Homo sapiens: one gene and its partner. The protein of the gene in region 1 purifies or fractionates together with the protein of each later gene. This does not show direct contact. Each region holds a gene or a part of one and is shown on either strand. Other genes may lie near its edges. The genes, in order: KCNJ4 and DMD.

Region 1 (3,820 bases):
GCCTCATGTGGAGTCCACATCTGTATAGAGAACGGCTGGCCACTTAAGATCTTGGCGATTCTCCTGAAAGAAGGTGCCCTTAAGTTCTGCGGCTCTCCTGGGCCCAGAGGAGGGAGCCCTGGATTTCAAATCACCCTCTGTGACCTTGAGCAATTGGCTTCAATGCCTCATGCCTCCATCTCCCCACCTGTAAAATGGGGATGACAGAATCCTCAAAGGCAACAGCTATGAAAGCAGGAGACAGGAGTAGAGATAAGGCCTCTGACTCTGAAACCATAGACACTCAGGGGCCCGTGGATCCAGCATGCTGGGCAGGGGTTGGACAGGGTAGAGTGGGAGGGTGCCTGGATTCAGACAGAAGGTTTGGAGCTTAAATCACTGGTCTGATGCCTTCGTTTTACAAAAGTGGAAACTGAGGCCTGAGGGGGAAGTAGACCCATCAGGGTCACAGTGATGGTTTGTGGGCGGAGGAAGCAGAGCCAGGGCCATTGTTTTACAAAAGTGGAAACTGAGGCCTGAGGGGGAAGTGGACCCATGAGGGTCACAGTGATGGTTTGGGGGTGGAGGAAGCAGGGCCAGGGCCTGAATCCAGGGCTTCTGGCTCCCAGCTCTATCTGGAAGCAGACAGACAGATGTCCCTGTGTAACACTGTGGCAAGCCCAGACAGGACCCAGGAGCTTTGAGGGCCCAGCTCTGAATTCGGCCACCTCCTTTCTCCCTCCCTTCTCTCCAGATCCCCTCACCCCACTGTCCTTGGGCACTAATCCCCTCCCTCTATTGGTCTCTTTGAAGAACTCCTTTCAGTCTCATTTTAAAGCCAGTTTCAGGCAGTCCCAGGCAAGGACAGGTTGGATTTGGGGTTAACTGGAAGCTTATGCTCCATTCTAGAAAATTCCCAGAGCTGGAGGTGGAGCAAGATAGGGAGCAGCTGTGGTTGTTTTGTGAGATAGTGGGCTCCTCAATCCTAGAGGTATTCAAGCAGAGCCAGATGAGCACCTGCCAGGTGACTCTCGCCTTACGGGTGAGGCCGAATAACATCCCCACTTCCAAAATCCTAGGAGTCTTTGGTGTTTCCCAAAGAGGAGCTGGGAAGCAGTGCCCATCGCTTCCCCGCTTCCCAGCGAGGAAACACATTTGCTCGCCAGGCACTGGGCTAGGAGCTTTTGCAAATTCCCATTTAATTCTCCATGGCAATGTTGATTTGATGTCCCCGTGTTATAGATGGAAGGGCCATGGCTCAGAGAATCTATGTGATTTGTCCAGGGTCACACAGTAAGACAGCAGAGGAGCCTGGGTGTGAGTTCAGACTAGTCTGATTCTCGGGGGCTGTCTCTGGGGCTTCCCTGGGGAAAGAGTGGAAAACGTTCCTCCCTGGGGCTGGGGCTTGGCAGGAGATGGTCTAGACGCCCCCACAGCGTGACACCCCCTCAGGGATCCTCTGGCTCCTCTGGGGGCTCCATTCTGAAGACAGATACCACCATGCATCTTAGGGGAGAACTCATTTCATAGATGGGAAGACTGAGGCCCAGAGACAAGGAATGACCTGCCCGAAGGTGCCCAGAGAGTTAGATTAGGGCCAGGCTGCCTGTCTCCTGGCCCAGGGCTCTGTCCCCTGTGCCAGTGAGTGAGGAGGGGCCTTTGGGCTGACGGTGGTGGCATGAGGTGTGAGGTCGGGAATGCAGAGGGCTGAGAGAGGGCTGGCTCCAAGCTAGGGCTGCAGGAGGAAAGTTATCGGCGCAGGGAGAGGGGAGCAGAAGGGAAATGGCACATGTGCTACAGAGCCTGGTGAGGTCAGTGGGACCTGGCTGGCAGGAGAGGGTCTTGGAGACAACTTCCTTGGGTGGCTCTCTGTGTGACCTTAGGTCAGTCCCTCACCCTCTCCGAGTGATGTCCACCCATCCATGTGAACCTGGGCTGAAAGATCTATTTCCACCGAGTAGCTGTGGTTGGGCTGCTGTCGAAAAGCGCTCCTCCCAACGATGGGAGGACTGTGGGTCCTGGCAAGGGGCAGGCGGGAATCCTAGGGGTTGGCATAACCTTTAAGCCTCCTCTGCGGACTCAGCCCTCCTTGGGGTGTGGGGGATCGCCAGTCACAGCCCTTCTTCTCCTTTTCATCTTTATTTTTCTCCTGTTCCCTCTTCCCCTCGCTACGTGGGCTGATCGCTGCTCAAACTTTTAATTCAGATGGTAATTGAAATAATAATATGGGCTGAGGCCCCTCTGCTTGTGACGCTGCAGCTGGTGGAGCTCGGCTATGAATAGACCTTGAGTCACACACGCGCGCTCCTGCAGGCGCGCACACGGGCGCTCACGGGGTGGTGGGTGGGGTGCAGCATGGGGAGCAGGGGTGAGCTCACGCTCTGGCTTGCTCTGGTCTTGGCCCCCCACTCCCAAAGGTCTTGACCAATCCTGGCCCCGTGGCCCAACACGGGGTCCCTGTCGTGAACCTGGAAGACTTTGGACATAGATGATTCTCATTTACAGAAGGGGAAACTGAGGCTCAGCAAGGGGAAGTGGCTGGCTGGAAACAGGCTGGATTTGAATGGATGGGTTTTGCCTGATTCTAAGACCACTGTTCTCTGTTGGGACACACAGGGTGGGAAACCGGTGGGGAGGAGTGCTGGCGTGTGGCCCCTGCCCCTCCCTCTGCACCCGTTGCCCCACCTGCTCGCAGCCCCCTTTCAGCCTGCGCGTGCATGCTCAGGCACAGACACAGGCACACACGCATGCGCATGCGTGAGGGCTGCTCAGATGGCTGGTGCCGTTGCTTGGTGGCTGGGGTGAGAGCAGTGTTCTCAGGGTATTGCTGCAGGAGGGAAGCTGAGTGCCAGGCTCAGCGCTGGGCTTCATATTCATGATTTCACTTAATCCTCCACCACCCTGGGAGAACCATCACCCCCACTTCTCAGATGAGAATACTGAGGCTCAGAGAGAAGCAAGGATTGGTTCCAGGCTCCTGGGTGGAAACAGCCACAGATGCTTTGTCCTACTGTGCACCCAGTGCCAGCCCCTCCAGGACCCTCATTGGCCACCTGAAGGGAGGTGGGTACATGTCTGCCAGCCTAGGCCTCCCCTTTCCTTCCATGCAACAGCTCAGCCACTCCTCCCTGTGGCTGCTGGCCAGTCCCTGACCAGCCCTGGTGCCAACAGCTGGGACGTCTGGCCTTGGCAGGCAGGGGAGGGTGAGGTGCCCCAGAGAGACATTGGCAGGTCAAGAGGTCCTTAGGGGCTACCAGGAAAGGGGGTCCTTGGTGTTCCCGACCCCAGCAGGAGCTGTGGAGGGAGAAGTCAGCGTTGTAATGGTGACCTGTCAGCTGGGAGCTTTGGTCTAGGCCTGGGGGGCCCCCAGCAGGGCAGAGGGGAGCTGGGGCATGGGAGGTGCAGTTGGGCGGAGGAGCTCCCTGGGACTGGGATGGAGGAGAAGCCCCCACCAAGCCTGGCCCAGCAGCTCCTGTCTGCGGCTGCATTGGCCTTCTCTCCATTTCCTCTCCTGGGAGATGGAGAAACCGAGTCCGGAGACCACCAGGGTTTGCCCAGGGTCACTCAGCAATGGTGGCAGAGCCTCTCAACCCGGAGCTGCTCCTGACTCCTCTGTGTCCTGATGGCTCCCAGGGCTGCCGGCCCCTCCTCTCTCACTGACACTCCCCAGAGCTGTGGGGTCTGTGGGAGGCGAGCAGGGTCTGGGTCTCTTTAAGCTCCTTCTCCCCAGAAAATCCCCAGATCGGAGCGAGGGGAAGGGCAGCACTCCCTGGTCACAGCAGTAGGAAGGGTGGCCTGCGTCAGGGGCCTGGGATCGAATCCCAGCTCAGCCCCTCACTGG
Region 2 (3,820 bases), on another chromosome or scaffold:
GTTTCATAGGCCATTAATATTTTATGATTAGAAATATAAAGCCATTTTAGTTGTCTTATAAACTGTTCCAAGCTGTATGTGTAGAAGTGTCACCACTGTTCGTATATTGGTGAACATAACTAATAAAAAATTATGTGAGATAAATGCTTCTCCTTCCAAGGCTTGCATAGCCACATTTATCTTACTATACCAAATCATGCTCTAAATGCAAAACAATTAACTATTTGAAAAAAGAAAACAGCAAGTGCATGCTTTCAAATCAATGTGATAAGACTAATTTAATAAATCAACAATGGGAGGAAATCAGTCATCATGCTCTTTACAAGCACACTCAATATCTTCTGTGATTAATAGAATTACTCAAAATGCCATTTTATAATTCATGGGAACATAAGCTCTGCATGCAGCTTTCATTTCTACAGAAAGTAGCAATTAGGGTTTTATTCACAGGTTTAATTCGAGCGAAAAAATAATAAATATCAGGGAATTTCTAAAAATTTCATTCCATTGGAAAATTTTGACCTTCTCTAAAATATTTCATAAGGACCAGAATTGGAACTATTTGACAGGTTTAAAAAGTTATTGAATATGTTGGTATAGATTGGTTTGGCGAGTAGTGTTGACGATTTTGATTAATCACTTATAGCCTGTATTTGCAAGAATGAACTACATTTCATTATCTAGTTTGTTTAAAATTGGGAATTTAAACCTTGCTGTACTTTATGTTTTATGTTGAATTTTCAAACCTTCTGAGGAGTCAGATCGAACGCTGCTTTTTTCAAAGGTAGCAAGATACAGCCACGTGAATTAGAGTTGAGCCATGCCTTATTTGTGACATAACTCACATCTTTGCCAGGAGAAAGGGCTTGGTGGTCATCAATCTGAAACATCTTTCATTTCCTAAGCACAAAGTGATGTATAATATGTAAAATATTTAGAGATGTCATGTAGATTTCTTTAGAGGAATGCCAGATGACCATTAAACACTGCTATTCAGTAGGACACACACCATCATACGACCAGTGTAGATACTTCTGAAAGCTTGCTCACAGTTGGAAGGGTGTGAGTTACATAGCGTTCCGATTTTCTAGACACATTATGGTGTGCTTTTGCACTCCCTCGAGGAAGAGGCCTTTTCTGTTTACTATATTTATCAGCAGTTACCTTCAGAACACCTGCTGGCCAATTAGACTTTCCTTGTGGATTCCTTGCAGGCACAATATTGTGTAATTACATTCTCAGCAGTGTTTATTTGGTTGACTATAGGGGGAAAGGTTTTATTCTCTTATTTGCATGTAGAAAGCAGACTCCATCTACCTGCTAGGTGGATCCACCTTCATAACTACATAGCTCAAAAGAGTGATTTACAAGGAAAAGCTCAGCAATTAAAAGTATTAGAAAATCAGCCATGCATGCAAATAGTGATTATTGCAAAGCATATACAAAAAAAAAGTTTCACAAAACTTTCCACATGTCTAGTCTCAAGAACTTCCTAGATATTATTATAGAAAAATTAAGTTTATCCTGCTCTTCCTGCACAAACCAGATGAGTCACCTGGGGACTTGAAGCCATACACTACACTGCTTAATATGAAAGTAGCAGTTCTTATTCAAGGGCACTAAGATTATTTTTTAGGATTCCTACATAAATGAAATTTGACTTTGTAGATAGTTGCAAAGAGTGACTTTCTTAAAGGCATAATAAAGTTTTAAAAATAAATAAAAGAATCTAGGGCTTATTAAACAAGTATCAGGTTACCAAAAAATTGGACCTAATGCAAGCAAAATCAATTAAGTAAAGAAAGCAGGAATAATGGATACATGTAGATCGGTTATTCTGGCAGTTAGGCAGGTTTTTTTCAATATAAAGTAGCTGATAAAAATAAAGCACATTAGAAAATTAAATGTATAAGTACTATGAATGCATTCCCATCTTTCAATTACTACTTAGAAAAATATGTCTTTAAAAAGCCATAACTTTTAAGCAACACATCGTTCAAAATCAAATACCACTCAAAAATGTTAAATAAAGCATACACATTGAACAGAAAAAGTGAGTTTCTGATGACTAAGTCTGAAGCAGATTTTATTAATGCACATTATATTTTACCCTATATATTAAAAAAAAACCACAGGCAAGGTATATTATAATTTTAGCTCTAATACCTTGAGAGCATTATGTTTTGTCTGTAACAGCTGCTGTTTTATCTTTATTTCCTCTCGCTTTCTCTCATCTGTGATTCTTTGTTGTAAGTTGTCTCCTCTTTGCAACAATTCTTTTACAGTACCCTCATTGTCTTCATTCTGATCAAAAACAACAAGTACAGTCTTCATTTTGGTTTTTAAAAAGCTGTACATTGTTAACAGAGATAATAAGACATGTTATTTAAACACACACAAAAATCCAATTTAAAACTTTCATGGAATGCTATTATAAGATACTGTGCTCATAGCCTTTCTTTTACATTTGGTACTTGAGGTTTCAAAATAAGTTTCCTCCCATCTAGTTGTAAAGAACACATTTTTAGGGGCACCTGTAGAAAGATGGGGGAGTGTGGTACTTCATCATGTCAGACAAGTCATGAATTACTGTGAAAGTATTCTTTTGGCTTTTTTAGTGTAGTTCTAGAAATTAAAACATTAGAGAAATGAGCTAAAGTTATCATTTATAATGTTAACTGATCCATAAAGGAATACAGATGTGTATTTGTGACTGAGATAACAGCAAATCTGAAAATATTAACACACAACTACATGAAAATATTTTGATTTAAATGTACACTAATTCCTATCTAATAACTCCTGCTTCATTTCTGAAACCTAAATGCTCAATATTAATAGGAGAAATATCAGGATATTAATAAAAATCATGTGCTAAGTTACCATCAAATAATTTCTAAAATATGTCATATATGCATGTTAATTTAAATACGATCAAATAATACTAAAATATGGACTGGAAAATGGCTTTAAACATTTTCAATGGGTATTTTGTTCCTTTAGGCTGCAAGAACAATATCTTAATTTTCTTTACTTAGAAATAAAATGTTTTGAATAAATGCTGGTCTAATATAGTCGCATATATGACCATGTGATTTTTCACCTTTAGTTTTCTTTCTTTCAACTCAGAATGTGAAAACTTTGTATCAAGTAGTCTCACATTGTAATGGTACTCAAGGTACACTGATGACATAAGGAAAACAAATAATAAATTTCAAAAGTCACAAGTATTTGTATGTGTGTATTACAATTCAAGGAATTAGATGTTATATATTTAAATCTATAATGCATAAACTTCAACACGCAACTGAGGACTGATTCATTTTGTATGGGGGAAAGGGATTATTTTTGTCAGAGACTGGTCAATAATCTAAAGAAACATACGGCATAATATAGACACATTATATACTTATCATAATATAGACACATCATATACTTATAGTCTGTAAAAGACTTTACTTATTTTAAAAGGTGTTGTAAAAGTCTGTAGCATTTTCTAGGGCTGAGGACAAAAACAACAAAAAATTAAAAAACCCACTTCACTTCTTTCCCTATACCAGTTGAGGGCTCTAGGGCAGAGTTGGGGTCAGCCCAAGAGGTAATCAGTACTTTTTTTCATCTTGGTGCCCTCTAGTTTCTTCTTTGACCTGAAGTAGAGATTGCTGTAACTCAGCAACTTGGAAAGCCTCTTCCGTCTTTCCACAAGCTGAGTTGGCAAGGCCACCAAACCCCATACATGGGGAGTATTGATTGAGGCAGCTCCAGGAAGTGGGAACTAAGATTGGTGGGAATAGTTCTCCTATTGCTTCACACACTTATT

The links.
Region 2: the proteins of KCNJ4 (region 1) and DMD purify together in Homo sapiens (affinity purification with western blotting, with the first as the bait; one study listed by BioGRID). This does not show direct contact.

The regions. Positions count from the first base shown.
Region 1 is NC_000022.11:38,448,438-38,452,257, reverse strand, and holds part of KCNJ4 (inward rectifier potassium channel 4), read left to right. Parts: intron 1-3,820. UniProt on the Homo sapiens protein: Inward rectifier potassium channels are characterized by a greater tendency to allow potassium to flow into the cell rather than out of it.
Region 2 is NC_000023.11:32,343,777-32,347,596, forward strand, and holds part of DMD (dystrophin), read right to left. Parts: intron 2,305-3,820; coding exon 2,167-2,304; intron 1-2,166. UniProt on the Homo sapiens protein: Anchors the extracellular matrix to the cytoskeleton via F-actin. Ligand for dystroglycan.